Linked DNA regions of Homo sapiens. The protein of the gene in region 1 purifies or fractionates together with the protein of each later gene. This does not show direct contact. Each region holds a gene or a part of one and is shown on either strand. Other genes may lie near its edges. The genes, in order: CDH12, CHEK2, PKP4 and ARVCF.

Region 1 (8,743 bases):
ATAAAGTAGCACTTGTCAGATACTAGCTACTGTGACATAAAATGTACAAAATAAAAAACACACTTACAGCAGGAGAATTTCTTTCATGTTAACCTTTCTCTGTTCCTCACACCAGGGTCTTGACTGTAACAATTTTCTTGAATTTGGAACGTGTATCTTTACCTAATAATGTTTTTTACTTAGGAAATTTTTGATTTTTCTAGTTCTTAAGTATTGCCTTAAAATCATGTTTTTCTTAATATTTTGGCCTCATCATTCTTTTATGTCTTCAAAATACAACAAACAGTAAATTAAACAACATAGCATGTTCTCTACTCTAGATACATAGTTTCTCTATGTAAATTCTTATTTATTGACCTGCAGAGAGTTTTAATTAATCTTCATTTACCTTTTAATTATTTTTGTTGCAACCTTCAATTTTTTTTCAATAACTGTTCACATTTAAAAAAGACCTGTAAATCTATTCACCAGGCATCTTCTACTTTTCTAATTATCAACAGAACATCCTAGGGCTTCAGAAATAAAAGACTGATAAATAATGTTAGGTTAATACATAATAATTACCAAGGCAGCAGATTTTGGAGAATACCTAACAAATATTTGAATGTATATGTGGATGTGTGTGTGTGTGTGTGTGTGTGTGTGTGTGTCTGCATATAGCCCTATAAACCATATATGGTTTTCTGGAACTTAACTGGAAGTGAATCATGTTGTAATATGGAAATGTAAAATAATAGTTTGAATTCAGTGAGTAAATTGGTTAGCATTCAGCCTGAAATGTACGGGTGCTCAGTAATTGTTATACTTATTTCTTTTTAAAAGACAGATGAGCTTTTTTAGAGTTCTCTCCTGATTACTGATTCTCTTCAAGAATAAAAGCATTTGTTATGGACTGGATGTTTATGTTTCCCCAAAATTCATATGTTGAAATCCTAATGTCCAATGTATGATATATGGATAGGCTTTGTGGGGGTAAGGAGGTCATGAGGGTGGAGTCCTCATAAATAGGATTAGTGCCCTTCTAACCAAGACCCAGACAGCTCTCTTTCTCTTTCTGCTGTGTGGATACAAAGACATGACTTTCTGCTGAATAGAAACCAGGCCTTTATTAGACAATGGATCTCTTGGCACATTGAACATAACCTTTCCAGCTTTCAGAAACAAGAGACATATATGTTTTTTGCTGAAGCCACTCCATCAACGGTAATTTGTTATAGCAGCCTTAAGTGACTAAGACAGACATTGGTACCAAACGGTGGGGGTGCAGCTATAAAAAATACCTAAAAATGTAGAAGTGGCTCTGAAACTGAGTAAGGGGTACAGGCTGGAAGAGTTTTGAAGTGCTAAAATTATGAATGTTCAAGGATATTCTGTTAAAGGTTCAGAAAGAAAAGAGAACTGTAGAGAAAGATTCTGTCCTCCCAAATAACAACTCAACAGTCATAAACAGAATGTTGGTAGATATATGGACAGTAAAAGCCATTCTGATATGTTAACAGAGAGAAATAAAGACATGTTATTAGAAACTAGAGGAAAGGTCAGTAAGTGGCAAAGAAGTTAGGTGGATGGTGTTCATGGTCTAGTATTTTGTGGAAAGAAGGACTTTTGAGTGATGAAATTATTAGATATTTAGCTGAGGAGATTTTTAAGCAAAGTGTTAAAGGAGTAGCTTGGTTCCTCACAACTGCTTGCAGTAAAATGTGAAATAAAAGAAATGAAATAAAGATGAATTTTTTAAGTAAAAAGAAACCAAAGCTTAAGGACTTGGAAATATCTCAGCCCCGTCCGTGTTCCAAAATAATGAGAAAGTGTGTTTAGAAGAGAACATTAAGGGTTGATAGATTGATTACTTAATAAGAAGATTTGTATAGGTGTGAACCAGAACTTCATCTGCTATTTCAAAAAAAGCCAGGAAAACAGATGAGATTATAATAGCAGAAACACTGCCAGCTGGTACTAAAGAAAACAGAAATGTGGTAAAATGAAAGAAGATCATCAAACTTCTTCAGCTCTGTTAAATAGCATCACATAGCTCTTCAGCTATGAGCATTCATAATTCTCCAAATCGAGGGAAGAATTCCAAATCACCCCAACAGTGATTTGATGTCACCAGGCTTGTGGAATGGCTGCTTCCATAATGATTTTAAACATTGGGATCAATGCCTAGAAGACACACTGGGGTAGGGTCGCTCAGTGGAGCCCTGAGAGTGTGACCACTGCACATGAGTGAGGACACTGCAGAGAACCACAGCATGGGTGGTGTCCCTCCGAGTGGTGGAGGTTATATTGCCACCCTAGTGAGTCCAAAAGTGGGACATCCATTCTAGTGGGCCTGAGAGGTGAAGAATAGAGCTAGAGAAGGATTATGTTTGAGACTAAGGTTTAATGGAGTTTCCCCTGTTAGGTTTTGGACTTACATTGGACCTCTCACCCCTCTCTTCTTTCCTCTTTCTACATCTTGGAATAGGAATATCTTCACCATTGTATTTTGGAAACACATAATTTATTTGGTTTCACAGCTGGAGATTCACAGCTGGAGAGGAATTTGGCCTCGGGATGAATTGTACCTTTTGTCTCACATTTGTTTGGCTTAGATGATATTTAGATGACACTTTGGATTTTAATTAATATTAGAAGAAGTTGAGACTTTGGGGGCCCTTAGGATGTCTGCATTTTGCATGTAAGAAAGACATAAATTTGGGGTGGGCAGAATTGGAATCTTATGAGATGATATGTATCCCCCCAAAATTCACATCTTGCAATCCTAAACCTCAATGTGATAGTATTAAAAGATGGGGCATTTGGGAGGTAATTAGTTGATCCGGATGGAGCCCTCATGAAGTTATTTTTACCATTACAAAAGGGACTCTAGAGAGAGCTCTCTTTCTCTTTCTCCAGTGTCTGGAAACAAGGAGAAGATGACCACCTGCTGAAAAGAAAGCCGGTCTTCACCAGACGCTGGATCTGCTGGTCGCTTGATCTTGGACTGTCTAGCCTCCAGAACTGTGTTTGTTACTTAAGTCATCCAGTGATATGGTTTGGCTCTGGGTTCCAATCAAAATCTCATTTAGAATTGTAATCCCTACATGTTGAAGGAGGGTCCTTGTGGGAGGTGATTGGCTCATGGGAGTGGGGGTGGTTCCCCCATGCTTTGCTCATGATAGTGAGTGAGTTCTTACAAAATCTGATTGTTTCATAAGTTGTTTGACTGTTCCTCCTTCACACGTTGTGTCTTGCCTGCTGCCATGTAAGATGCGCCTGCTTCTCCTTCCGCCATGATTGTAAGTTTCCTGAGGCCTCCCCAGGCATGTGGAACTGTGAATCGATTAAACCTCTTTACTTTATAGATTACCCAGTCTCAGGGTGGTTCTTTATAGTAGTGTGAAAACGAACTAATACATCCAGTATGTGTTAATGGATGGTAGCAGCTAGAACTGACTGAGGTAGTATTCATGTAATTATAGGTGATGGATTCAGATAAATCCAAAGAGCAAGTTACGTATGCTGTCAAGCCATTTCCTGAGATGTCACTATATGCAATTACTGTGTTAAGGATACTACTGAACACTTGATCCATTGTTTTAATCTTTACTTGTCACATAGTGTAAAATCTTACAAGATATCTGTCTGTTGTATGTCAATAGAATAAAGTGTTTTTGCTTTAAAAACCTACTTAATATTTTCTTATTTTGGTTCTTGCATAGTAAGCTTCTTTCGGGACAGAAGATTCAGGAACAAATCTCATACTTGTCTTTTAATTGGTTTCTCAACAGCTGTAGGCACGCGGCAGAAAATTCAAGCATACAATAGAACGAATGGGAAATAAAGTCTCAAAACATACTGCTGGGTCAATGCATAAATGAGGAAAAGGGAAATTGTATTATGTCTTGATAGTACTAGTGGACTTTATGTGTTGAGAGAGAGTGACAGTGGGAGAGAGATGAGCAGGAAGCAGCTTCTTGCAAAGCATTTGCTTTGAGCAATTCCATAAATTCATTTTACTCTAGGACTGACTCTAACTGTGTCTCTACTCATTTCACCTCAACAACAGTAGACAAGTTTGTTACACTGGAAAAAATGACATGCAAATTGCAATAACTTTTTCAAACACTAACTTTGGGTAAGGGGTCAGAAATTTTAGAGTAATTATAAAATGTATTAATGTCTATTATACTCTAGGCACTTTCAAAGTATCTTAATATTACTAATTATGAGAATCATTCTCTAAAAGGTTATGTTATTAAATCCCGTTTATACATGAAGAGTTGAGATTTGTTACCTTGAGTGACATGAGAATCAGACCTCTATTGGTTATAACACCACTAGTAAACACTGCTGCAATAGTTGATAATATGTTTTCCCCCCAATCCTATAACATTTCCTCTATTCTTATGTAAAGTCATTATGTTTTCAAGCATCATATTCTATAATTAAATCATCATGCAGTTTTGGACAGAGAATTGGTTCTCTGGTTTTTGTTCTTGTTTTGTTTTGTTTTCCTGAAACATAGAAAAAAAATGTTTCTTTTTCTCACCTAACAGCACTGCTGCCTACATCCAGGTCTTGAGCAGTGACAGCGCCAATGATGGTCCCTACCGGAGTGTCTTCATAAACCTCCATGGTGTAGAGCGGCTTGCTGAAAACCGGTGGCTCATCTACGTCCAGCACGCTGATCTTCACCGTAGCTGTGTCTTTGAAAGGGCCCGCCGAGTGAAACCGGTGGTCAAGGTGAAGGTTGGAAGCCTCAACTTTGAAAGTGTATGCCTTCTTTGTTTCAAAATCTAAAGGCTGTAGTGAGGACAAATTAAGAATAAGGAGTAAATTTATATAGAATGTGGCAGAAATGGTGAACATTACTTCAGAGCAATTTGCAAGTTATTATCAATTATACTGGTTTAAAATTTTCATTTTTCTTAATAACTAGTGGGTAAGGGCAGCACAAGGCAAACCATTTTTTTTTCTTTTTTTTTTTTTTTTGAGACAGAGTCTCTCCCTCTCTCCCAGGCTGGAGCTCAGTGGTGTGATCTCGGCTCACTGCAACCTCCACCTCTGGGGTTCAAGCGGTTCTCCTGCCTCAGCTTCCGGAGGATCTGGGACTACAGGCGCCCGCCACCATGCCTGGCTAATTTTTGTATTTTAAGTAGAGACGGGGTTTCAACATGTTGGCCAGGCTGGTCTCGGATTCCTGACCTCAGGTGATCCACCCACCTCGGCCTCCCAAAGGACTGGGATTACAGAAGCAAGGTAAACATTTTAAGAAAAGAATCACGTCCATGTAGAAGTTTCTGGGTAACTTGTAAAGATCATCAGTTGCCTATGTTTGAAAAACTCATCATTTACGTGCAGACATACATGCTAGGTAGGGCTTAATCATTTTATATGAGCAAAGTTAAAACAGCAACAGAACAGATGTTCAGGGAAGCATTTCTCTGCTCTTATCCAATACTGACATCTAGTGGAACAAAGCAATGATAAACAAAAAAATGAATAAAAATGAAATAGGATCATTGAAGATACTCTAGATTCTAGCTGTAAATTTGGTATTGAAAAAGTGGTCCCATGAAAACTCCATATTTTGTTGTCTTATTTTATGGCATCTTATATTAAATACTTTTGGATGTCTAGATCTTTTTTTATTTTTTTTACTAGTAAATGTCTGTATCAGTATTTAAAAGCATACATAGTACTAATTTAAAAAGAATTTTTGTGTGTGTGTGTTCTCAGAACTGTATATATAAATTATGGGCGCGGTAACACATCATCAATACACATTACCAAGAATTGTGGCTTTATATATTAATATATATGACTAAATTAGAGAAGGCTGTGAAACATAATATAGAAAGTCATTTTCTATGGAGTCACGGATGCTCAGTTTTAGCTTATCGCTGCTTACTTGCACCCTCACTCTAAATATTAATTTTATGTCCACAATAACTGAAAATACACTATTCCTGAAATATGGTGCTGCTGTGGTGCTTTGTTTAAGTGATAATTTTAAGGTCAATGGCTCTGGCCTCTGATCATCTAAGAAAATCTGAGACAACACGAATTTAACATTAACATGGTGATTTTCTGGGACCTTTAAAAATTTATGTTTTCTAAAGGAATTCCTTCAAGTCTGACCCCAGTAAGTTGCTAATTGCTGTGTCAGTACCTGTTCCTTTACTGTAGTACACCTGGGGAAAATAAAGGAAGGATGGATATTTTTCTCCTTCTAAGATATGATTGCCATTTTATGCATTTCCTCTGAGGAACAAAAACAAAAACAAAAAAACACTTTTAAATCTTCGAAAACTCACAATTTCATGGAATTTATTATAACAAAACAGCAATTTCACTTGAATATGACATCAGTCTCTTTCACCATACTTTTTTATGCAGCAGGAACTATATTTATTAATTCCCTATAGGTATTCCTTTTATCATATTTTTATTTATGTGTTTATCTGCTTTGTAATCAATGTTTTCTTTTTACTTTTCTATATTTTAATTTGCTAACCTCATACCTGTTAACTTATAATATTGATTTCCTTTCATTTTCATATTTCTCCTGTTAGAAATTTTGATTTCTCTTAATACCTATATAAGCAAAGAATAGTATGCATAATATGCGATGGTTGATAATGTGGCCTTTGATGACATGAATAGAAGTGTAGTATCTGAAAAAAAGAGAGAGGATCACCCAGTGATGTTCCTTTGATCAGCCTAAAGCTTGAATACTGTGTTTTGTTGAAGAAATCAGACTCAAGAAAAGACAACTTATTGCAAGACTAGAATGATAAAATATTACCAAAGCCAAAAATGAGAAACCACTACAATTACTGCCAAGGCAAGGAAAGACACACATTTTCAAATACTTGAAGGGCCATTATGTTGACATTACTTAGGATTATTCTTTATGCCTCTGAGTGGTGAATTAATAGTAATTTGAGTTATTAACGAGAGTAAATTTAGATTAGAAAAAAGAGAAAACCTCTAATAAATAAAATCATTCTATAGTGAATTAAAACACACACACACACACACACACACACACACACACACACACACACACACACATAGATGTTTTACGTGGTGGCAAGGCTTGACATGCATCCTGTAAGGATGGAAAGATGAAAAGACAAGACTTGCCTCTCAATTCATTCAACAAATTACAGAATATTGCCATCTTGCTTAATGAGTGAGTTTGAAGAAGTACCAAGTTCTCTATAATTACATGTGTTTAAGAGATATTCAATATGTTAGAAGATATCGGAGAGAGAATGATGTGTAAGATAGAAGCGTGCACTAGCTAATTCAAATTAAGGAACATATAAAAATATGTTTTCTGTTTTTCCAAACTCTAAATGCTCTATAAATGTTAAACAATATAAGTGGTCTATGTTAGGTATCCTTAACTTGTAGTATAAGACTACTTTGATTTTTATCACCTTAGGGTTCCTTTTGCCTAGAAAGCAAATTGAGCTGACCTGGCTCATACTTACTCCCTTTCTTAGGCAAAAATTAACTTCTATCTTAGAATGTAAACGTTTGTACCAATCATTCCCCATTTCCCTCTCTACTTTCTCATATGTTGAAGTACTTCTAATTATCTATATGATTTGGCAAATTCTTTCTAGATAAGATCTTAATTTTTTTTCCCTACTTGATTACACACTACTGTTATCTAGATAATCTTGACTCTCTACAGGTAACTCCTTTTCAAGCCAGACATGAAAGGAGAATTTTGAAACCTTTAAAAGAGATGAGATGTATTCCATGCCTTTTAAGGACCCCTGACCTATAACAGCAGGCAAATATCTGGTTGTTAGGGAGACAGAGTAAGATAAAAGAATCCTGTACATACAGATTTTTTGCAACTGAAAACTTATAGCCTGTAGTGATCAAAGAACTAAAGAAAATTGTAAGAGAAATGCCACCATAGTCTCCTAGGTGGACTTACTTCTTCGTGACCCTGACTTTTAGGCAATCCCACTTGACAAAATGGTATATAGCTCAGAAAGGGCAAAGAGAACCAGCAGTGATCTGTCTTTAATTGAATTTACCTACACATCTGACTGACTACCCTCCATTTTTGGGGGGAATGAACTTTAGTTTCACAATCAATAAAAATCCCAGCATTTGAAATAAATATAGAATAAATAGGATTAGTTTCAGTGCTAGAAAATAAATCATATTCTATGATAGACATACATTATTGTGAGGTTGAACTAATTTATCTCTTGCACAATAAATAGAGAACTTTGTGGCATGGCTTGGAGCCCATTTAATGGTTATGAACCTCTCAAAGGGGAAGAAATGATTGACTAAAGAGAATTTAGTTGAGCAGCTTCTTTCTCTTTAGGTTGTTTCTATAAGGGAAGACTAGTGGCACCAGAATGTTCAGGAAACAATTCATCTAATTGAGTTGTGCAGTAAGAACCACAACTATAGAGAAATGAAATATGATATACTCAATTGTTCTACAGAGACTCAAGGGAGGAATTGGGGAAGGGGGGAATTTTGCTTCTTTGTTTTTTGCCACTGAAGGAAATAAAAAATATTTTACCCCCCAAGATATTTCTCTGATGTATTTTGAAATGTCTGCCACAGGGCCAGAAAATATAAGTGGCCTTGCAAAGCTATCTTTTGTGGGAGAAAAATTGCATCTGTAAGGAATTCCCATTAACGTGGGCAGGTCTTTTCTATGCCTTTCCCAGACCTAGGAGCCAATGAGAGCCTGACAATTTTAAAAGTCTGA
Region 2 (3,500 bases), on another chromosome or scaffold:
CCCAGCCTCTTTGTTTTCTTACTTTTAAAGGTGATGTATCCCATTTAGCCCTTTCTCACCATTTCTATTTCTCACTCATCTAAACCTATAGGCCTATCTGAAAAAATATATTGTATTTTATTTATTTGTTTATTTTTTGGAGACGGAATCTCGCTCTGTCACCCAGGCGGGACTGCAGTAGCGCAATCTCAGCTCACTGCAACCTCCACCTCCCAAGTTCCAGCAATTCTCCTGTCTCAGCCTCCTGTGTGGGTGGGATTACAGATGCCTGCCACAACGCCCCGCAAATTTTTTTTTCTTTTTTTTTTGAGATGGAGTTTCGCTCTTGTTGCCCAGGCTGGAGTGCAATGGCGAGATCTCGGTTCACTGCAACCTCTGCCTCCCAGGTTCAACCGATTCTCCTGCCTCAGCCTCCTGAGTAGCTGGGATTACAGGAGCCCGCCACCATGCCCAGCTAATTTTGTATTTTTAGTAGAGACAGGGTTTCTCCATGTTGGTCAGGCTGGTCTCGAACTCCCGATCTCAGGTGATCCGCCCATCTCGGCCTCCCAAAGTGCTGGGATTACAGGCATGAGCCACCACGCCTGGCCTAATTTTTGTATTTTTAACAGAGACAGGGTTTCCCCATGTTGGCCAGGATGGCCTCAAACTCCTGACCTCAGGTGATCCACCTGCCTTGGTCTCTCAACGTGCTGGGATTACAGGCATGAGCCACAATGCCCGGTCTGAAAAATATATTTTAAATCAGTTAAAAATAGCTTCGAGTGTCTACTTATAAATTTAAAGTTGTATATGTGGAATGCAGGTATATTCCTCCATTTTTTATAGTTTTTTCAAGATATCAAAGTTAGACATGAAATAAAACAAGGATGGTGAGTGACAAAACACAAAATGATACATCAGTCCTTCATTTCTTTATATTAACATATTCTATCCTGTTAATGCCAAGTTCAAATTTGTTTATTAAAGAGGTCATTGCAATGTAAGCGAAAGGAAAAAAAACACTATTTTTTTTGGCCGGAGTGCAGTGGTGCAATCCTGGCTCATTGCAACCTCTGCCTCCCAGGTTCAAGCAATTCTCATGTCTCATCCTCCTGAGTAGCTGGGATTGCAGACATGCGCCACCACACCTGGCTAATTTTTGTATTTTCAGGAGAGACAGGGTTTTGCCATGTTGCCCAAGCTGGTTTCGAACTCCTGGCCTCAAGTGATCCTCCCGCTTTGGCCTCCCAAAGTGCTGGGATTACAGGCGTGAGCCACCATGCCTGGCAATGTTAAAATACACACATGTGTATTTTAAACATATGCAGAGCAAAACTTACTATTGGAACCAGGAGGTGTCAGAAAGGGTCAACATGTTTAAATCACAAGGTTGGCTATTTTGAGACAAAAACAAGTAACAAGTAGTCAACAAATGGCCATCTCTATTCTGAACAGCTCTGATTCTCTGAAGCTGTGGCAAACCACAGCAGAGGTTAACTAGTGAAGCTTTTGTGATTAGGGGATAATGTTTGCAAGTTTGAGTGAATCTGCATTTTTCTAGGAAGAGGGTCCAAAGCTACCTTCAGATCTTTGGATGGACAGCACATTGTAAATGTCCAATTATTATTTGTTGAAAGAGTAAATGAACAGAATCCACAGCAGGTAACAGCCAGGGCAACACCCAATACTGCCTCTTTGGTTTTACCTTTTATCACATTCAAACTCCAGAATTATTCTAAGAGTGGCTCAAGCATTCTGCTGCAACTAACTAAGGCAGGAAAATAGGGTCTGAAGGCAGGGAATCTATGGCCAATTCACGCAAACTTCCTGGAATAGATGGGCACGGTTGCTCATGCCTGTAATCCCAACACTTTGGGAGGCCGAAGCAGGAGGATCACTTGAGGCCAGGAGTTCGAGACCAGCCTGGCCAACGTGGTGAAACCCCGTCTCTACTAAAAATACAAAAATTAGCCAGGTGTGGTGGTGTGTGTCTGTAATCCCAGCTACTCAGGAATCTGAGACAGGAGAATCGCTTGAACCCAGGAGTCAGAGGCTGCAGTGAGCCGAGCCGAGATGGCGTCACTGCACTTGTCTGTGCGACAGAGCAAGACTCCGTTGCCAAAAAAAAAAAAAAAAAAATTCCTGAAACTAAACAAAAAAGGAAGAATTTGCACTCTGGCCTATGATCCGTCCATTCTAGGACCTTCATTTGCATAAGGCGTCAATCCACACCAGTCTTGGAATGGCCGAGCTCCAATTCACTTTGGCCTCTAATGGGCTGTGAGCCAGCACTTCATTTACATAGGATGTAAACAGTGGGAGACCTCTAGAGGGTACTTGAACCCCAGAAGACTTTGCTACAAGGGCTCTGCAGCCACTTGCTCAGGCCTGCTCCCATCCTGTGACATGTACTTTAGCTTCTATTGCCTTCCACTTCAATAAATCTATGCTTTCATTGCTTGTTCATGCATGATGTTCAATTATTTGTTCAACGTGCCAAAAACCTGGACAACTCCAATCAGAACCTTCCACCTGGTAATACAACTTTCTGTAAGTGTTTTTCTGAACAAAACGTGATACTATACAACAAAGGGTCTTACCAAGATTGGCAAATCCATCCTGAAGGGCCCATAATCGAGCCCAGGGGGCAGGGGTAGGCTCCTCAGGTTCTTGGTCCTCAGGTTCTTGGTCCTCAGGAATAGAATAGAGTTCCTGAGTGGACACTGTCTCTAAGGAGCTCAGTGTCCCAGAGCTGGAGTGAGAGGACTGGCTGGAGTTTGGCATCGTGCTGGTAGAGGAGCTGGATATGCCCTGGGACTGTGAGGAGGAGCCTTGGGACTGGGTAACGCTGCCATGGGGCTGTGAACAGGCACTGCTGCCATGAGACTGCTGAGCCTCAACATCCGACTCCCGAGACATCACGACCTCAAAAAGAAAGTGTCCAACAACAAAGGTGAGTTTCAAGGCACAAGACTTAAAATTAAAAAGTAAATGATGGGCCTATTACAACAGCAAAAGAAAAGAAAAAAAAAAAAACAGGGCAAACATGCTCTCCAAAAATTAAAAGTCCTAACAGCCCAGACCTATAGTTCTTCTGGGCTGAGCTTTTCACCAGATCATTGTCACCAGATCAGTTTTTTATCTGACAGCCATAAACTACAGGGAAAAACAAATTATCTGAAGGTTACAAATAAGTAAAAAGCAATAAAATTGAGCTGGGGGGCTCATAAAAGCTTACATTTGTCCAATTCTTTTAAATTAAGACTGAAACCAAAAATGTACTGATACAATCAACACTACATTTAAATTTCATATATACAGGGGGCCAGGCGCGGGGGTTCACTCCTGTAGTCCCGCACTTTGGGAGGACAAGACGGGCAGATCATGAGGTCAGGAGTTCAAGACCAGCCTGGCCAACATAGTGAAACTCCGTCTCTACTAAAAATACAAAAAATTAGCCAGGCGTGGTGGCGGGCACCTGTATTCTCAGCTACTCGGGAGGCTGAGGCAGGAGAATC
Region 3 (7,732 bases), on another chromosome or scaffold:
TGTTTTGAGAGAGTTTTGCTCTTGTTGCCCAGGCTAGAGAGCAATGGTGTGATCTCGGCTCACTGCAACCTCTGCCTCCCAGGTTCAAGCAATTCTCCTGCCTCAGCCTCCCGAGTAGCTGGGATTACAGGCATCTGCCACTACACCCAGCTAATTTTTGTATTTTTAGTAGAGATGGGGTTTGGCCATGTTGGCCAGGCTGGTCTCAAACTCCGGACCTCAGGTGATCCACCCATCCGGCCTCCCTAAGTGCTGGGATTACAGGTGTCAGCCACCATGCCCAGCCTATTTTGATGAGTTTTGATCAAGGTATACCCCTGTGTAACTGCCACCCCAACCTAGATACAGAACATTTCCATCGCTTAGCTCTCTAGTCAATACCTAGGGCAACCATGATTCTGACTTCTACCACCTCTTCTTGAATCAGTCATGCTTTATGTTCTCTTTTCTGCAACTTTCTCCTGCGTTTGAGCAGCATATTTTTGAGATTCATCCATGTCTCTGTACTGTGGCTCATTCTTTTTATTGTAGATTAGTATTCTATTACATGAATATACCATAATTTTATCTATTCTTGGATATAACTTTTGTTTATCCATTCTTCTGTTGGAGATTTGGGTTGTTTCTAGTTTTTGGCAATTATGAATAACGCTGTTAAAAACAATGGTATTTTAAAAATCTAATAAGTGAATAGCAATGGCCAAGTTTTCAAATGTCTTTTCCTTGTAAGCCAGTTTGATCATGGAAATAAAACCACCATCCAATAGGTTTGGATAAGTGTTCCATCAAATGTACTGCTGAGGCCCCCAAATGGGAGGGTTGCCTAGTGACAGATTTTTAGTGGCTTATATTAATAGGCATAGCTCACAGCATTCTTTTAGGGGGAGTTATCAGCCAAACCTAAATCATCACACACATCAGAATAATCAGAACTCAAGTTTCCCAAAATGAGGTTCATGTAACACCAGTGGTGGTAGACAAGATAAATTTTGGTGGTACGTAGGCATTTTTTTTTTTTTTTGAGATGGGGTCTCCCTCTGTCACCCAGGCTGAAGTGCAGTGGTGCAATCATAGCTTACTGCAGCCTTGACTTCTTGTGCTTAAGTGATCCTCCTGCCTCAGCCTCCTGAGTAGCTGGGATTACAAGTGCATGCCACCATGCCCAGCTAATTAAAAACAATTTGATATTTTTTATGTTTAATAGTTAATTGTTCATTTTTATGGTTACTAAAAAAGTATATGAGAAAACCATCACTTGCCCAAAGTTTATGGCAAGTGATGGTTTTCTCCTTTTAGAGTAGTAATAGAAAGTCCTTTGGCAAATTTGAAGCAATGATGAAAAACACTTTGTAGAAGTTCAGCTGAAACTCAAATTATTAAATATGAAAACCACTGGCAATGTAGTTGAGTGTAATGCTAATGGCCCCTTACTGGCTGTATGATCTTCAGCAAGTTAGTCTTCCAAGTTTGCTTCAGGATATGTTAAATGGGCTGTTAGTACAGATGTCACACATGTGCTGTGAGGGTTAGATGATAATGTATGTGGTACTCTGAGCACATAGTCAGCAGTCAATAAAGTGACCTGTTGGTATTTCAGTGCAAGAATCAGCATCAGGTGGACAACAGAACACTGGCCAGGGATTAATGATTGGAACAGTTACGGGACTGTGTGGTCATCACTTCTGATACTCATGGACTTCAAAGGACATAACCTTAAACAAGTGTGCGCAGGCAAAAAGACATACTCTGGCAAAAAGAAAAACCTCACATCTGACTTTCCAAGTTTAAGATCTCAATGATAACACTCCAAATCTATCCCTCTCTTCTAGGCAAACTCCGCACCCTAAACCCCAGCTGCTAAATTTTCAGGTGGTGCGGCATGAAGGGATGGAGGGAGAATGGGGAGTAGTACCAAGTGGCTCTCACTGGACTGTATGCTGTGATCACCCAGGGAGCTTTTCAGGAATACTGATGTCTGGACACCACCTCTGTGGTTTTGAGTGGTCAGGGTGGGGTCCAGGTGACTCTTAATGTGCAATCACGGTAAGGAAACCCTTGTTTAGCTCACTGACATTGGCTCAGTTCAGCCCTGACCCTCTGGAACAGGGTGGAAGTGGGCTGAATTCTATATGCTACTTAGTGACGTAAGGACAGCAATAAAAAGTCAACTTTGTTTTAGCAGAGCTTGTTTATTCCCACACCTTGAAGGAACAGTAGGCTTTGTTTTTTCATCAATGATGCACTTTTGTATCATTCAGGCTGTGTCTGCAGTTTCTTTTCTCTGGTCTCAAGGGAGGAGTCTTAAACGGCATTAGATCTTCTGCCCAGTCCCCGTGTACAGGCCTCTTTCTGGCTCTGTTAGGTCTGATTGGAGACCCAGGTGAGTTATTTTCAACCCAAATTTGGATCCGTTTTTGAAATGCTGCCTGTTACAGCATTACCCCAAACTAATGCAGTCACTAAAAGAAAGTTATTGTCAGTTGGCTTGGGCTGGCTCCGATTCCCTTGTTTTCCTGATTCCCCAACTGAGCCTTCAGCTTCAACCCAGATCTGAAGATACCAGGTTCAGGGAAGTCAGTGATTGGAAACTGAAGTGGTTACGTCCCAGAAGTCCTGATGCCAGTTCCTCAGGAACATCTGGCGACCTCTGCCATCTAACAAGGGCTGTCTGCTGAGCTCCGCCAGGTATGAGGCAGCCAGGGCTCAGTAGCTGGGCAGTCGACTCCGCAAGCTGGCTCGAGTGTTCTTCAGAAGGCACCCCAGAAGGGCTCCCGGCTTGCAGATCTTAGGAACTTTCATGCTCGCACTGGTATTTCCATTTCACTTTGGATGCTCATCTTGGGCTGCTGTCCATTCGGCAAGAAAACGCAGTTTTCTCTTGGGTGTCTTTCCATATACTCACAAATATAAGTACAAATGTTTTAATCTGCGATTTGTATTACACTTGCAGGGTATATTGAGCTAAGACAACACTTCTGGGTTTGACTTGCCATGGGCGTTAGTTCCTAGTTTTCCTAGTACAGCTACAGGTAAACTAGTTCCTAGTTTTCCATGATGGCACTTAACCAATGTGGCATTTCCATATTTACACCAACAAAGATCCAGGAGCTAGGACTGAAGGGTGGAAACTGCAAGACCTGAGAAGGCCTCAGACTTTGGGCCTGGTGTCCCTCATTGCCTCCACAGATGGAGAAAAGCTCCCAAGTAATGCTGTGTGGTGCTATGGGGACCTCTGCCTACCCTACTGTGGGGCTTCTTTCCCCTACCCCATTCCTAATCCAGGAATTACTCAACAAGATCATAATTTAGAATTTGTTTTATTATATTGGTGCCAACCAAATAAATGCCCAACCACTGTTCTTATGAAGTTACTGAGTTCTTAAAAATGATGCCTAAAAAAGGTATCAATTTAGTTATATCAATTTAGTTATGGCCGGGCTGCCATATAGAAAAACATGATAAAACTGTGAAGGGTACTAGATTTGAAATAGATTCCAAGAAATAAAAATACCTAGATTGTCAGAGAAGGAAAGTTCATAGCTTAATTCTTTGGTGTGGTCCATCTCACAAAGTATATATAAAACTAGGAAAAGTCCAAAATAGTTGGATATATTTAAGCTGTTTCCAACATGCAGTTAGATTTGTGTTTATTAAATCTGCTTTTCCATATACATACAGAAAATTTAAAAAGAATAGAGAACACATTTCCAAGGATGAAATTTCCACATTTATTTTTCTTTTATGTGAATAGAAAATGGCAGTGAAGTGTCCTATGAATGAGGCGAGGAATGGGCATGGCGCTGCGGTACCAGCCTGGACGTTGTGCTTCCAAAGTACACTATGTGTGGTGGAGACAAAGGGTGTCGCGGTTTGCTTTTAATTGCTCACAGTTCCTTGGGCTTCTCATTTGTTTTTGAAGTTGTCAGTTTCTTCAAATCTCTTTTCAAGTGACACATTGCATTACAAATGATGGCACTTAACCAATGTGGCATTTCCATATTTACACCAACAAAAGAAATTTACAAGACATAATAGCATACAATCTTGACATTTAGTAATAGCAATAAAACATGGGCATCCATTTTATTTTTTCTGTACAAACTATCAGAACATAACTTTATTCACATTAAAAAAATCATCTTTAATTTGATTTGACCTACATATCCCCCATTTCATTTCACCCATTTCTCAAACCTCTCATCACGTCACCCACACCTTCACCAGACTACAGAATCTATAAGTAATTAGATCTAACACCTAAATAGAGCTTAGAAAGTCCTCTCCCAAACATTTCCTCACTTCCCTGATAATTCCTCAAAAAAGAAAAAAAAAACACACTTCATTCATTCCTTCCACTTCACTTTCACATTTCAATCATCAAATCAGCAAGATGGACTTTTCACCTCAATCTGAACAAGGTTAGAAAGAAAGAGTTCCTCTGTTGGGCATCTTGATGCTACACCCATGAGTCTGGGGACCCTGGGTACTGTTCTGCTCTATAAGAAGGTCGTTTAGTGGAATAAAAGTCTACATAATTTGTGGTCGATTTCAGTCCATACTGTGTTGAGTAATCAGTAGAAGCTGGAAAGTGAACTCGGTCATCAAAATAAGGATCTTCATAGCTATGAGGAGACTGCAAATACAATCTGTATGCATCAAAGTTCTTTCTGTTGGAGTCATCTTGACTATAATACAGCTGTTGATGCTGTTGACAAAATGAAAAGGCAAATAAATAAAAGCAATTTTTTAAAAATACATGTGTTAGGAAAATTAATGTGGGCTTCCTGCTTCATATTTTTAAAGCAATATTCAATATTTGCAGTTTAAGGTTAAAAGCTGTTTCTGGTGCACACTATGCGTTTACTATTGGACTCTAAGGATTTTAAGCTGCATTCTCAGGCAGGCTGCTGAGTTTCCTGTCCTAAGACCTCTAGAGAAGCAGGTGCCTCAAGAAAGCCTGAGATCTCAGGGCAGGTGGCCCCAGAAACCTCCCCTCTTTACTGGAGGCCCTGCTGTGTGCTCAGCTGTGGAGGCACCTGTTACCTGGGCATGCCGAATGAGAGGATGGTCTTGATATTTGGTTTGACACAGGGGAATTATTAGCACATCACTAATTTAGTCAAGGACTGGGTTTCTGGGCCTTGGATAATTGTATAATTACCGAACCATCTTTTAGAACATTTACTTCAGATATGAAGATGGAGTCCACCCCTACATTTTAAAAGATGTATGTGGCTAGGTGAACAACAGTCACACTTTGGAAACTCTGCTGTAAGTTGTAATATTAAAGGAATAAGCAATCTCAAGGCAGAAGAATAGTAAAATTAGGAGACACACGTGAGCAAATATGGTTCTAGAGGAAAAGGCTTCCCCAAGCCAGGGCTAAGTCCATCTGTAAGTGGGCAAGACCAGGCACACGTGGGCACCCACACAGGGCACACTGCTCTCCATTTCCTTTTGTTCAGTCTTAGCTTTGACCTCACACTAATTTCTTCAAATTGTGATGGTTATTATGTCTATGTTCTTGATTATGCCCAAATCCCCCTACTTAGTAAGATGTAACAAATTTACCACATAGAAACCAATGTCATGTCCTGGAACTCAATGCATTCTAACATTATAAGGATTTCAGAGCTAAATTCTCCTTTCAAGCCAGAGTTATGATTCTGGTCTATTTTTCCTGACTAAAAAACCATAGCATAAATTATGAATAACTTGGAAAGTTCTTTTTCTTCCACCTACAGAGAAAAGATGACGAGAAGGAGAGGTCTTAGAACACATCCTTATCTGAAGGACAGGATACAGTCTTGTTTTAGGAAACTCCAGCTGCTCTGTGTCATTGAAAGGGAAGAGGAGAGACCAGATGGTCCAAGTTCGCCATGGCACTGGTAAGGACCTGAGACTGACTGCAGGCCCTTCATGAAAGCAAAGCCTGGGTGTGTTATAACCGCCAGTCCCACTCTCCCACAGTGAGGTCCATCCCGGCAGGGGCTGAGTCCACCTTGACCACTGAGACAAACAGACCTGGTGATGGACTCAGTGTTTTTAAATTGTGGAGCTTGGACAGGGAGGGGCGAGATGGAGAACGAGGTATACACAAAAGAGAACAATGTGATGAGGGCATGAAGTGTGCTTACCAACCTTCCCTCACTCAGAGGCTGGAAGAGATTTTAGAGCTTAACAGAAAAAGAGTGGGAAGAGGACACTGCTGGGCAAAAGACATGAACTAAAGACTTCTCGGCTGTCCCCATCAGTGGCACGGTGGTCTCAGCAGTACCGATGTGGATACTCAAGAACGTGAGGCTACCGTGGAAATGCTTTGCTTAAACCACACGTTGAGTTTCCAAGGAGTGAAGATCCCCAGGGAAAGCATCTAGGACCCTGCCATGTTGGCCCAGCTCTGGGAAGTCAATCGACGTGGACCCCTTACTGTGTTAACTGCTAATCAGCCTTCTGTAAAAATGATATTGCAAATTCACCTGTAGCCGTCTATTTTGTTCTCTTGCTGGTGAGGAATAGGAACTGATGTAAATTGGTGAAGGTTTGCTGGAGCCTGTAAGAAAATATTTTATGAAATTAAAACTAGTGCTTATTACTCTGGTCCATTAGGCTGGGTGGTCTCCCCTGCACTAGGGCTAGCACTGTCCCCGACAGGGCCTGTCTTCCCCAGTGCCAATGCGGGCTGGGAGAGGTAGCAGCTCAGGGTCCCTGGATCTGGCCTGGCTGCTGCTTACCTCAGGGCTGGTGGGGGCTAATGGCAAAACTATGGCAGAAACAGGCTGTGTGTGTTTCCCCAAAAAGCAATGCCAGTGCAGAGCCCATGCGCAAAGGTTCCTGCTCAAGCTCTGCTCACATGTGGGAGGGTTTCTCCAGCTGGCTTTGGACAGCAGCACGGGATCCTGAGCTGAGGAACACTCCTTTTCCAGGGCTCTGAGCTACGGCAGTGGGTCAGAGAGGAGAAGCGAAACACAATATTCGAACAAGCCCCATGCCTTCCAAACAAACAACTGGGATTCAAAATCTCAGGTCAAGGAAGGAGCAACAATGGAGGCACAGTCTTGTACCTGGCATATTTAAGTATGTTTTAATACAAAAGGAACTTGGTAATAATGAGATAATTGTCTTCAAAAGTCCATAGTAGACTCCTGATGATGTTACCCTTCCATTATTATTAAGGCTAGCAAAGATTTTTATTTTTTTAATGAGGAAAATGAAACGTAGTTGAGGCAAATTAGTTTATTGAAGCAAGCGAAGAAGATACAGAAGGGCATGCATGCTAAAGAGGTGATCTGTAAGATAAAGCAGGCTGCTGCAAATCGGAAGCAACCATGCACTTCAGTTGGTATGTGCATTTCCTTTTGCCCAGAGCTTGGTGTTGAAATGTAGCATCTGCAATTTTCTGAGCTATTAATTGCCATAGTAACAACAGTCGATTAGTAAATAGTCCTGTGAAATCACAATTTCAAAGACAACAGTACAATGGAGACTGCCCCCCCAGCAGGAGTAAAGCTGCCACCAGCTTTTATTTATTTTTAATAGACAGGTTTGAGAAAAGAGTACTTTTTGTGGGGTAGCTCACACTGACTTATTTGGAACATCTAAAGTAGTTATAATCGCCAGACGGTTGAGAATGGGAACAGTATGAAATCTTAGTAACCCTTTGGGCTGGTATCCTTTAAATAAATTGTATGCACAGCTTTCTGAATAGGATATAAAAATATTAACACTATGT
Region 4 (8,743 bases), on another chromosome or scaffold:
GCAGGAGAATTGCTTGAACGTGGGAGGTGAAGGTTGCAGTGAGCCAAGAATGCGCCACTGCACCCCAGTCTGGGTGACAGAGCGAGACTCCGTCTCAAAACAAACAAACAAAAAGGAAACAGTTCAGATGCAGCTGTAAAAACAAAGTTAAATCCTTGCCGTCCATTTACATCAGAATAAATACTAGTTTGTGCTATGGGCTGAACGTGTCCCCCAAAGTTCACGTGTTGGAAACTTAATTCCCAACGCAACAGTGTTGAAGGTAGGACCTCTAAGAGGTGTTTAGGTCACAAGGGCTCTGCTACATGAATGGATTAATTCCGTTACAGTGGGAGTGGATTTGTTATCTCGGGAGCAGGTTACTGATAAAAGGATGGGTTCCGCCTCCTTCAGCGCTCTCTCACGTGTGCTCCTGCCCTTCTGCCACCTCCTGGGGGATGTAGCGACAAAGAAGGCCCTCGCCAGATGTGGCCCCTCAATCCTGGACTTCCCCATCTCCAAAATTGTTAGAAATAAGTCTTTGTTTTTCAGGAATTAGCCAGTCTCAGGTATTCTGATACAGCAGCCCAAAATGGACTAAGACAGACAGATTAAATGCTGTGTACAAAACTAAAGTAAAAATACCTTCTAGAAGAAAAGACAGGTGCATCTTTATCTGGCTGCATGCTAGGGAGAGTTGACTACACAGAGAGACGGAATATCTAAAAATGGGGAAAAATCCAACACACTTCACCACAAAATATGAAACATTTTTGACATCAAAATGATCATAAACAAAAACTAAAAGGGTGAGAAAAATGTGCAGTAGGCAGAAAGAGGAGTGAAGAATTAATATCTTTAATATACAAAGACTCATACAATGGCTGAGAAACACATCAAAACCCAAGAGAAGGCCTGTCATAGGGGCCAGGCGGCCGCAGGAGACGAAGCCGCAACCCCCTGCAGGCACACGGCGGCTGATGGAGGAGGCCAGGCTGGTGCTGGTCTCTGAGAGGACACCACTGCTGGCCAGCTATGGGAAACGGCAGGGCATCTGTGTCCCCGCCAGCCCTTCTCACTCAGGCCTGGTCTCAGCACGCACCACCCCATCACACCCTCCCAGCTCCCCCTCCTAAGGGAGCCATGCTACTCATCACCATCTTGTAACCCCACAGTTGGCCACTGGTTCCTCTGTGTGTTGTGGATCTCCTCAACCAGGCTGGGAGCTCCTCAGGGGCAGGGCTGGGCCTGATGTGCCTGTGATGCCCAGGACCCAGCATGAGGCTGGGTGAGTGGGTGCTGAGTGTGGTGACACATGGGTGTTTACATCAGCCCCTGTCCCAGCTGAGCCCTGAGGCTCCCTCCCCAGCTGCCTCCCGCTGTGGACAGGACCACACCCCAGGGCCCAGCAGAGCAGGCAGCCGCAAGCCAGAGCCCAGGTTGCCCAAGCCAGAGCAGAGATGGCACAAATGCCATCACCCATCGCACCAGTGCCCAGGGCAGACATGAAAAACCAATCACCACAGCAGACAGGAATAAGCAATCACCACATTCCAGATGGGCAGGATAGGAGATGGGGAAAGGCAGAGAAAGAGGCACAGAGAGGGCCACAGAGAAACATAGAGAAGACCAAGAACTGGAGGGGGGAGGGAAAAGAAGGGACAAGAAAGGAGCAAGCAACAGGAGGGAGAGTGAGCAAGTGTGCCTGGGCAGCCTCGGACCTGCCCAGCCAACCACCCTCCTGCGGACCCTGTTACCAGGGCTGTCGTTTGGTGTCTGGCTGACCTGGCCTCCCTGAAGTGTGGTGACCTACGAGGAGTTAAGGGCAGTGGGACAGCCCCTCCTGCCACCCTGAGATGCCCTGTCACCTGTGCCACAAGCAAGCCAAGTACCCTGCCTGAGCTTCTTTGTCCCAACCCAGAAGACCCTGCATGGCCAAATGGCCTGAGCAGTGACATTCTCGGCCAGACGCTGGTCCTCCCACACAGCCAGGCGGCAGCAGACCCAGCTCCCACTAGGCTGGCCCGGCCGGCAGCTTTCCATGCCCAAGGACTTGGGAACAGGCAAGGAGTCAGTCATCCTGTCCCTCCCATCTGCCCTAGATCCCTCAGCCTAGGTCACTCAGGCATCCGGAGGCCATGGCCTTCTCCCTACCACTTAGGCACAGCACTGGCTGGGCCATGCCTCCACAATGGGCACTAATTGTCACTGAGAAACCACAGGGCTGTCAGCCATGCCTCCCACAGAGACTGCTTTTTGGGGGGACAGGCAGATGGCCAGGGTGGGGACTGGAGGAACAAGAATGGCCAGGAGCCATTCTCTTAAGCCATCACCCACTCTGCTGAACAGCACCCATCGTGGCAAAACTCTGGCAGCGTGGATGTGAGCAGGGTATGCCTTACCATCCTTCAGAGGGTCCTGGGGGACATGGACCACTCAGCCTCCAACCCTGCCATGCTTCCCAGGCGCTATGCCTCAGTCCCACTGGAGCTAGCAGCCATGATAAGCAGAGGAACCCCAAACACAGATAACACCTGAGGCCACGGGCCAGTACACATGGCCTACGGCTGTGATCAGAGTACATTCAGACTATTCAGTTATGGGCTGTCTGCAGCCATTTTCATCCTACAATGGCAGAGAACTGCAGCTGTGACAGAGACCATAAGGCCTGCAAAATTGAATTACTTACTATCAGACCTTTTCAAACAAAGTTTTGTGTGCCTGGCCTCCAGGACTATCCTCTGTCCCTGTGGCTCCAGTCTCTGGGGGGCAAGCGAATGGCCTGGCCCAGCAGGCTGTGCCAATACTGGATGCCACTGCGGCTGGCATCCTAGCTCAGGCAGGTGAAGAGCAGACCCAGTGAATGTCCAAACCAACACTGACCAGCAACCTCGTCAGCCAGCCCCAAACAGGCTTGTCCCTAAAGCCAGACATCAAACCAGTGGCTGCTGCCCATATTCAGGCCAGTAACAAACCCAAGCTGGTGGCAGGAGGCCCTCACATCCACCCTGTCCAGCCCAGGGGCTGTGCCTACCCAGGGTGAGAAGGACCAGGAGCACACAGTGTCCAGGGCCAGTCCATCCCTGTCACCCCCACCCGCCAGGCCCACCAGAACACTCTGCTGTCCTATGTGGGAGAGGATGTCCCCAAGCTAAACCCAGGCCACTCACCTGTCTTGAGGGAAGATCAGCATGTCCCGACACCCACCCTGCAGGCTCTGGCTCCTGCAGGGAAACCAGAGGGCATGAGTGAGGTCAATCCAGCTGGGTAGGTCCCTGCCGGATAAAGGTACACAAGCCCAGACCGTCCTCTAAGCAGGACCTTGTCATGCCTGATCTGAAGGTCATCCCGTGGTGCTCCTGACTCATAACCACACACTCATGTGTACCTTCTTGCCCCCACATGTCCAGGACTGTAGGTGACACTGGGCTGCCACGGTTCCTTGTCAGCATGTCTAATGCTGTTGACCATCCTTCAGAAACGTGATCCTTCAGAGATGTGGACTGATAATGACGTCTTCCCCATCACACACAGCACAGCAGTATTCCCACCCCAGGGTAGCCAGGCTCAGGGTCCTGTTGCCCCACGCAGGTGCTCACAGCCCCATAAGACATCTGCTCCACCTCCCTAGAGTCCGCTCCCGCCTTGTGGGCGAGGCCACGTGCCTCTCCTGAGGTTCCCTGAGGCCAACATAGATCCTGGGCCCTCCCAGGCAGGCAGCTGCCCCCAACAGTCTCCAGTACAGGGAGGGCGGGGAAGCAGGCAGGTTCCTGGCCCTGGAGCTGTGGCCAGGTGTGAATAACCATTTGTCTGGGATGGGGGACCTGGCACTCAAGCCTGGGGAGCTGAGGCTTATGGGCTGGAGCAGGAGACAAGGGGGTGCCTGTACTCACACAGCTTTCAGCCTTCCTCAGGGGAGGACCCTGCGGCTTCCTGTCTCAGCTAATGGCCCCGGGGACACATTCCCTCTCCTTATATCTAGGCCCGGGGATATTGCCAGAGTGTTCATGTCATAAAAATGAAAAACAGGACACTGCAGACAGACAGGGAAGGGCTGGGCCTCGGATGGGAGGCTGTCTCTGGGGGACATCGGTAATGAGAGCTCTCTCCCCCGCCTCTACGGTGTTTTCTAGATTGTTCTGAGGCCCCGCCCAATAGTCCTTTGTGGTCATGGTCCATTCTGGTGCCCCAACGGTGTGTTTCCCCGTCTCACGACAGCCTCTTCATCATGGGAAGGGGTCCAAGTGAGGGTGGGCGACTGGCTACGCCTCAGGGTGGGATCATGGGGGGTGGGATGCAGGGCCTGAGGCAGGGAAGAACTGGGGACCAAGCCAGGCACATGTGCATATGCATGTGCGTGCATGTGAATATGAGTGTGTGTGTGCACCTGAGATGGGCAGGCCCGGTTGGGAGCCCATCCACCAGCACTGCGCCCCGAGGAAGAGGAGATGCTGCTCCTACTCCAAGGTCTGAGGCTTAGGAACCAGCTTTTGCTCTGAGTGTGACATTTCTAGGAAACCTCTGGTTTTAGCTTAAGTGTTCACATAGGTTTTGTACCACAGAGAACCATGTGACTTTTTTTTTTTATCCCTGATAAGCACCAGCCTCTCCCCCGGAGTCACCATGTGCCACAGAACCGAGACACACTGGCTGTGAGCCGTCATCTCACTGACTCTACCAGGTGTCTCAGGTTGGCTATATACCCCATTTTACACATGGAGAAACTGGGTCCCAGCCAGACAAGGGCTGGGCCAGGATTTAACTCAGGTCTTCCTGCCTCCAGGCCTCCCAAAGTCCCCCCCCCCCACCCAGTTGGGGAAGTGTGACCAAAGGAGAACATGGGTCCTTCCTCATGGGCCTCCTACCTCATGGGGTCCAGCCAGGCCAAGAACCTGCAACCATATGGTAGAGCCAATAGCAGACCCTGGGAAGGGGTCCAAGTGAGGCATTGGAGAGGGCTTCCCCCAGGAGATGGGTGGGAGCAGAGGATAGCAGCACCACAGGAGGCTGAGTGGTAGGAGCAGCCAGAGCTGTGGGTATCCTTCCTAAGGGTGCACTAGGCACATCAGCATCGTACAGGCAGGGGCAGAGCAGAGCATCTGTGGACAACCTAAGGGAGCTCTGGGCAGTGGACGGACAGAGGGACGACAGACAGGACAGTGATGTGAAGGCAGAACTAGTGATAGGATCATATGGGAAGGTGGGGAGGTGCTCACCTTGGGGAGCCCCCCTGAGTGCTCTGCAAGCTCTGGGGTCACCTGCCTGGCCAAGGACCCAGTACCAGCCGCCTCAAAGCGGGGGAATGACCACGCCCTTTATTGGGCCCTTTTCCCAGTGAGGATGGCCTGGGCCTACCCATGCCATGGGACCCCCACACTGGGTCTCCCCACCAAACTGTCCAGACCCGATGGCTGGCCATGGGGCTCTGTCAGCCCCTGGCTACACCCCACTGATGCCCTAGTAAGCCCTGTGGTTCTGGCACGGTATCCATGGTCCAACCAGAGGGCTGAGAGGTCTCACACTGGGGCATAAGCCTGGCCCAGGCCACACAGCCAGATTGGCAAGCTACAGTCCTTTGGATAGCTGACGGCACAGGGCAGCTCCCATGGGTACACACTGGGCCCAGAACTGGGATGGAGGATGCAGCCTGGGCTGGGTAGGCAATGAGGGGCCCAGGTGAGCTCGCTCTGCACTCCCTGCAGTGTGGCCTCAGCAGGCCACCCCCTCCCCAAGTCTCCTCGCTTCCTGCTCTATGAGCGCGAGGTGACACTGACTGTAGGTAGCTGAGAACATGCCCTGGCAACAGCCAATGCAGGCAGGTGAATGGAGTGCCCCGTGGCCAGTGGACAGGGAAGGTCCATGCTGCTCAATGACAATGCTGTCCACTACAGCAAAACCGAGTGTTCTCCTAGGCCTGCTGCCACCCTGGGCACATAGTGAGAACACGCCCACTTCTGCTGTGGACATTGAGGCACAGACCACACCTGGGAAGGCTTGGGAGGCCCCTGGGCACACACTTGAAGGACACTGCACTTTTGGGGCTACGCAGGCACAGGGCTAGTCCTTCACTGTCCCTGCTGAGCCTGTGTGTGGTCACCCACCAGCTGGCCTTCAGGCTTCCTTCTGCCTGCACCAAGCATGTTGGGGGTACCGAGGGGCCTTGCTTGGCTCCTTTCCAACTCCACGCCCTCAATAGGCGGCTTGGAGGCCGAGCTCCGGTCATCCAAGCCAGGTGTCTGGGGAAGGGTCCTGGTCTGCCGCAGGAAGCTGGGTGGAGCCGGTCTTGCCTGCTGTGGCGGTCCCAGCTGCCCTCTGGTGGCCATGCTCAGCTCCCCGTTGCTCTGCCAGAGGCGGCAGCCCCTCAATCAGCAGGGGCAGTGGGAAGGGCCTGTGCATAACTGGTTATGGAGTGGGGGGAACTCTGTGGCCCCAGGCACCCACCAGCTCTGGGTCATCTTCCCGACCTGAAACAGGCCAAGATATGAAGGCCCTGAGCCAGGAAAACCTACTAAGGGATCCCTGATCCCAAGTCCCCTCAGAGTGACCCAAGACTTCATCTTGGGTTTTTCTGTTTGTTTTTTTGTGGGTATTTTTTTTTCTTTTTTTGAGACGGAGTCTCACCCTGTCACCCAGGCTGGAGTGCGATGGCACAATCTTGGCTCACTGCAACCTCTGCCTCCCAGGTTCAGGCAACCCTCCTGCCTCAGTCTCCCCAGCAGCTGGGATTACAGGCATATGCCACCAGGTCCAGCTAATTTGTTTTGTATTTTTAGTAGAAACAGGGTTTCACCATGTTGGCCAGGCTGGTCTCAAACTCCTGACCTCAGGTGATCTGTCTGCCTGCCTCGGCCTCCCAAAGTGCTGGGATTACAGGTACGAGCCACCGTGACCAGCCCATCCTGGTTGTTTTGTTTGTTTTTGTTTTTTGGAGATAGAGTCTCGCTCTATCACCCAGGCTGGAGTGCAGTGGTGTGATCTTGGCTCACTGCAACCCTCACCTCCCCGGTTCAAGCGATTCTCCTGCCTCAGCCTCTTGAGTAGCTGGGACTACAGGCGCATGCCACCATGCCCGACTAATTTTTGTATTTTTAGTAGAGACAGGGTTTCACCATGTTGGCCAGGCTAGTGTCAAACTCCTGACCTCAGGTGATCCACCTGCCTTGGCCTCCCAAAGTGTTGGGATTACAGGCATGAGCCACTGCGCCCGGCCTCATTCTGGTCTTAATTGAAGCTGCTGACAAAAGAACAGACACCTCCCCATGACTAAGCCACCATCAGGGAAGTCCCCAGGACCCCCAAGGCCCAGCTGGTGCTCTGCAGTGCTGTCCCTGGACCCCCACCCTCCATTCCTGGCCCTGTCTACAGAATGGGCCCTGACTCCCTATCCCAGCTCTACCCTGTCACTCCCTCTGCCAGGGCCAGGCGGGGAGCACGACAGATGGGCTGGACAGAGGGTGGTGCCTGGCATCCGTGTGCAGAGCTCCCTGCTCCACCCAGAGACCGGGGATCCTGCTGCTCCTGCACCTTCTGTCCTTACTCAGGACAGCCTCATGCTCCCCCAGGCCAGACTCCTGGGGTGAAGGAGCACAGGGAACTCACCCTGAATCCCTGTGTAGCACAAACAGAAGGAGGGGTGCTACCCTACCCTCACAGAGCCACAGAGATGCAGAGGGCCCCGGGACTGGGGGGAGACTACAGGGCCACCTCTGGAGGGAGTGCCAGAGCAAACATGGGAGCCAAGCAGCCCAGATGTGGTGGGTGGGGAGACTCAAATTTAGCAGGATTGAGGGTCAGAACTTGTTCTCCCAGGAGGAACCTTGGTCAGAAGGTCCTTGTGTTTATGCTGAAAAGCCTGACAGGGCAGCTCAGCCAAGAGCTGGGCAGGGGCTGGCTTGGCTGTGCTCAACTACCCTCTCAGCTGGGACTTGAGTCCCTTAGCGAATGTTCTGTGCCCAGTCCTCTGCTGGGCGCTGGTGGACCCCAGAATGGGGGTAGGGTGGGGACAGGGGACAGCTGGGAGCAGACATTGCGGATAGGATGGGGCAAGACTGGGGGAAATGCCTTCCCAGACACGCTGCGGCTCACACTGTCGCCTGATCTAAGGCCTGGATCACCTGCTTAGGAGCTGACCGGCCACTGGCATGGCACACCGGGCAAGAGAGCGCTGACTGCCCCCCTGCATTCAGCACCATCCCAGCTCCAATAGAGTGAGTACAAGATAGGTAACACCTGCCTTGTTTGGACCAGACCTCTAAACACCGCCCAGATCCCAGAGTAAAGGCAGATAAGGCAGTAGTTAAGAAGTAGGAAGAAGTAAAGGCAGCTACCCCAGAGAAGCTAAGGTCGGGAGAGGTGGAGGCTCCCACTGCACCCCCCTGGCCCATACCATAGGGGAGGTTTCCCCCACAGCAGCCTGGGTACTCACCTGAGGTTATTAGACAGCAGCATTAAGAGCCTACTCTAAAAAATACCCACGGGGCACCTTTCTTTTCCTTATTTCTAAATATGCCTGGATGTAGGGAAAGGGAGCTGAAGTCCTTTAGTTCCATTTTAAGTATGTTACATTACACATAGCTAAGAAACGGTGAAATATTGTAAGCAGCCAATATTTAATTATTTAAAAATTAAAATAGGCTGGAGCTCTCAGGCCACCTGCCCAGGGCGACTCCCCAGCAAACCGAGCAGTCTCCCTCAGAGTGGAGATGACATGTCTCCGCACCGGCACCGAGGGGGCGCAGGGCGGCGTGGGGAGGGGGACCCAGGC

What was found.
Region 2: the proteins of CDH12 (region 1) and CHEK2 purify together in Homo sapiens (affinity purification with mass spectrometry; one large-scale study listed by BioGRID and IntAct). This does not show direct contact.
Region 3: the proteins of CDH12 (region 1) and PKP4 purify together in Homo sapiens (affinity purification with mass spectrometry; one large-scale study listed by BioGRID and IntAct). This does not show direct contact.
Region 4: the proteins of CDH12 (region 1) and ARVCF purify together in Homo sapiens (affinity purification with mass spectrometry; one large-scale study listed by BioGRID and IntAct). This does not show direct contact.

Annotation. Positions count from the first base shown.
Region 1 is NC_000005.10:21,797,633-21,806,375, forward strand, and holds part of CDH12 (cadherin-12 isoform 1 preproprotein), read right to left. Parts: intron 4,789-8,743; coding exon 4,535-4,788; intron 1-4,534. UniProt on the Homo sapiens protein: Cadherins are calcium-dependent cell adhesion proteins. They preferentially interact with themselves in a homophilic manner in connecting cells; cadherins may thus contribute to the sorting of heterogeneous cell types.
Region 2 is NC_000022.11:28,731,821-28,735,320, forward strand, and holds part of CHEK2 (serine/threonine-protein kinase Chk2), read right to left. Parts: intron 2,908-3,500; coding exon of another isoform or gene 2,902-2,907; coding exon 2,583-2,901; intron 1-2,582. UniProt on the Homo sapiens protein: Serine/threonine-protein kinase which is required for checkpoint-mediated cell cycle arrest, activation of DNA repair and apoptosis in response to the presence of DNA double-strand breaks.
Region 3 is NC_000002.12:158,677,402-158,685,133, reverse strand, and holds the end of PKP4 (plakophilin-4), read right to left. Parts: intron 6,554-7,732; coding exon 6,480-6,553; intron 5,889-6,479; exon of another isoform or gene 5,745-5,888; intron 4,706-5,744; coding exon 4,457-4,705; 3' UTR 3,705-4,456; downstream 1-3,704. UniProt on the Homo sapiens protein: Plays a role as a regulator of Rho activity during cytokinesis. May play a role in junctional plaques.
Region 4 is NC_000022.11:20,007,306-20,016,048, forward strand, and holds part of ARVCF (splicing regulator ARVCF), read right to left. Parts: intron 3,204-8,743; 5' UTR 3,150-3,203; intron 1-3,149. UniProt on the Homo sapiens protein: Contributes to the regulation of alternative splicing of pre-mRNAs.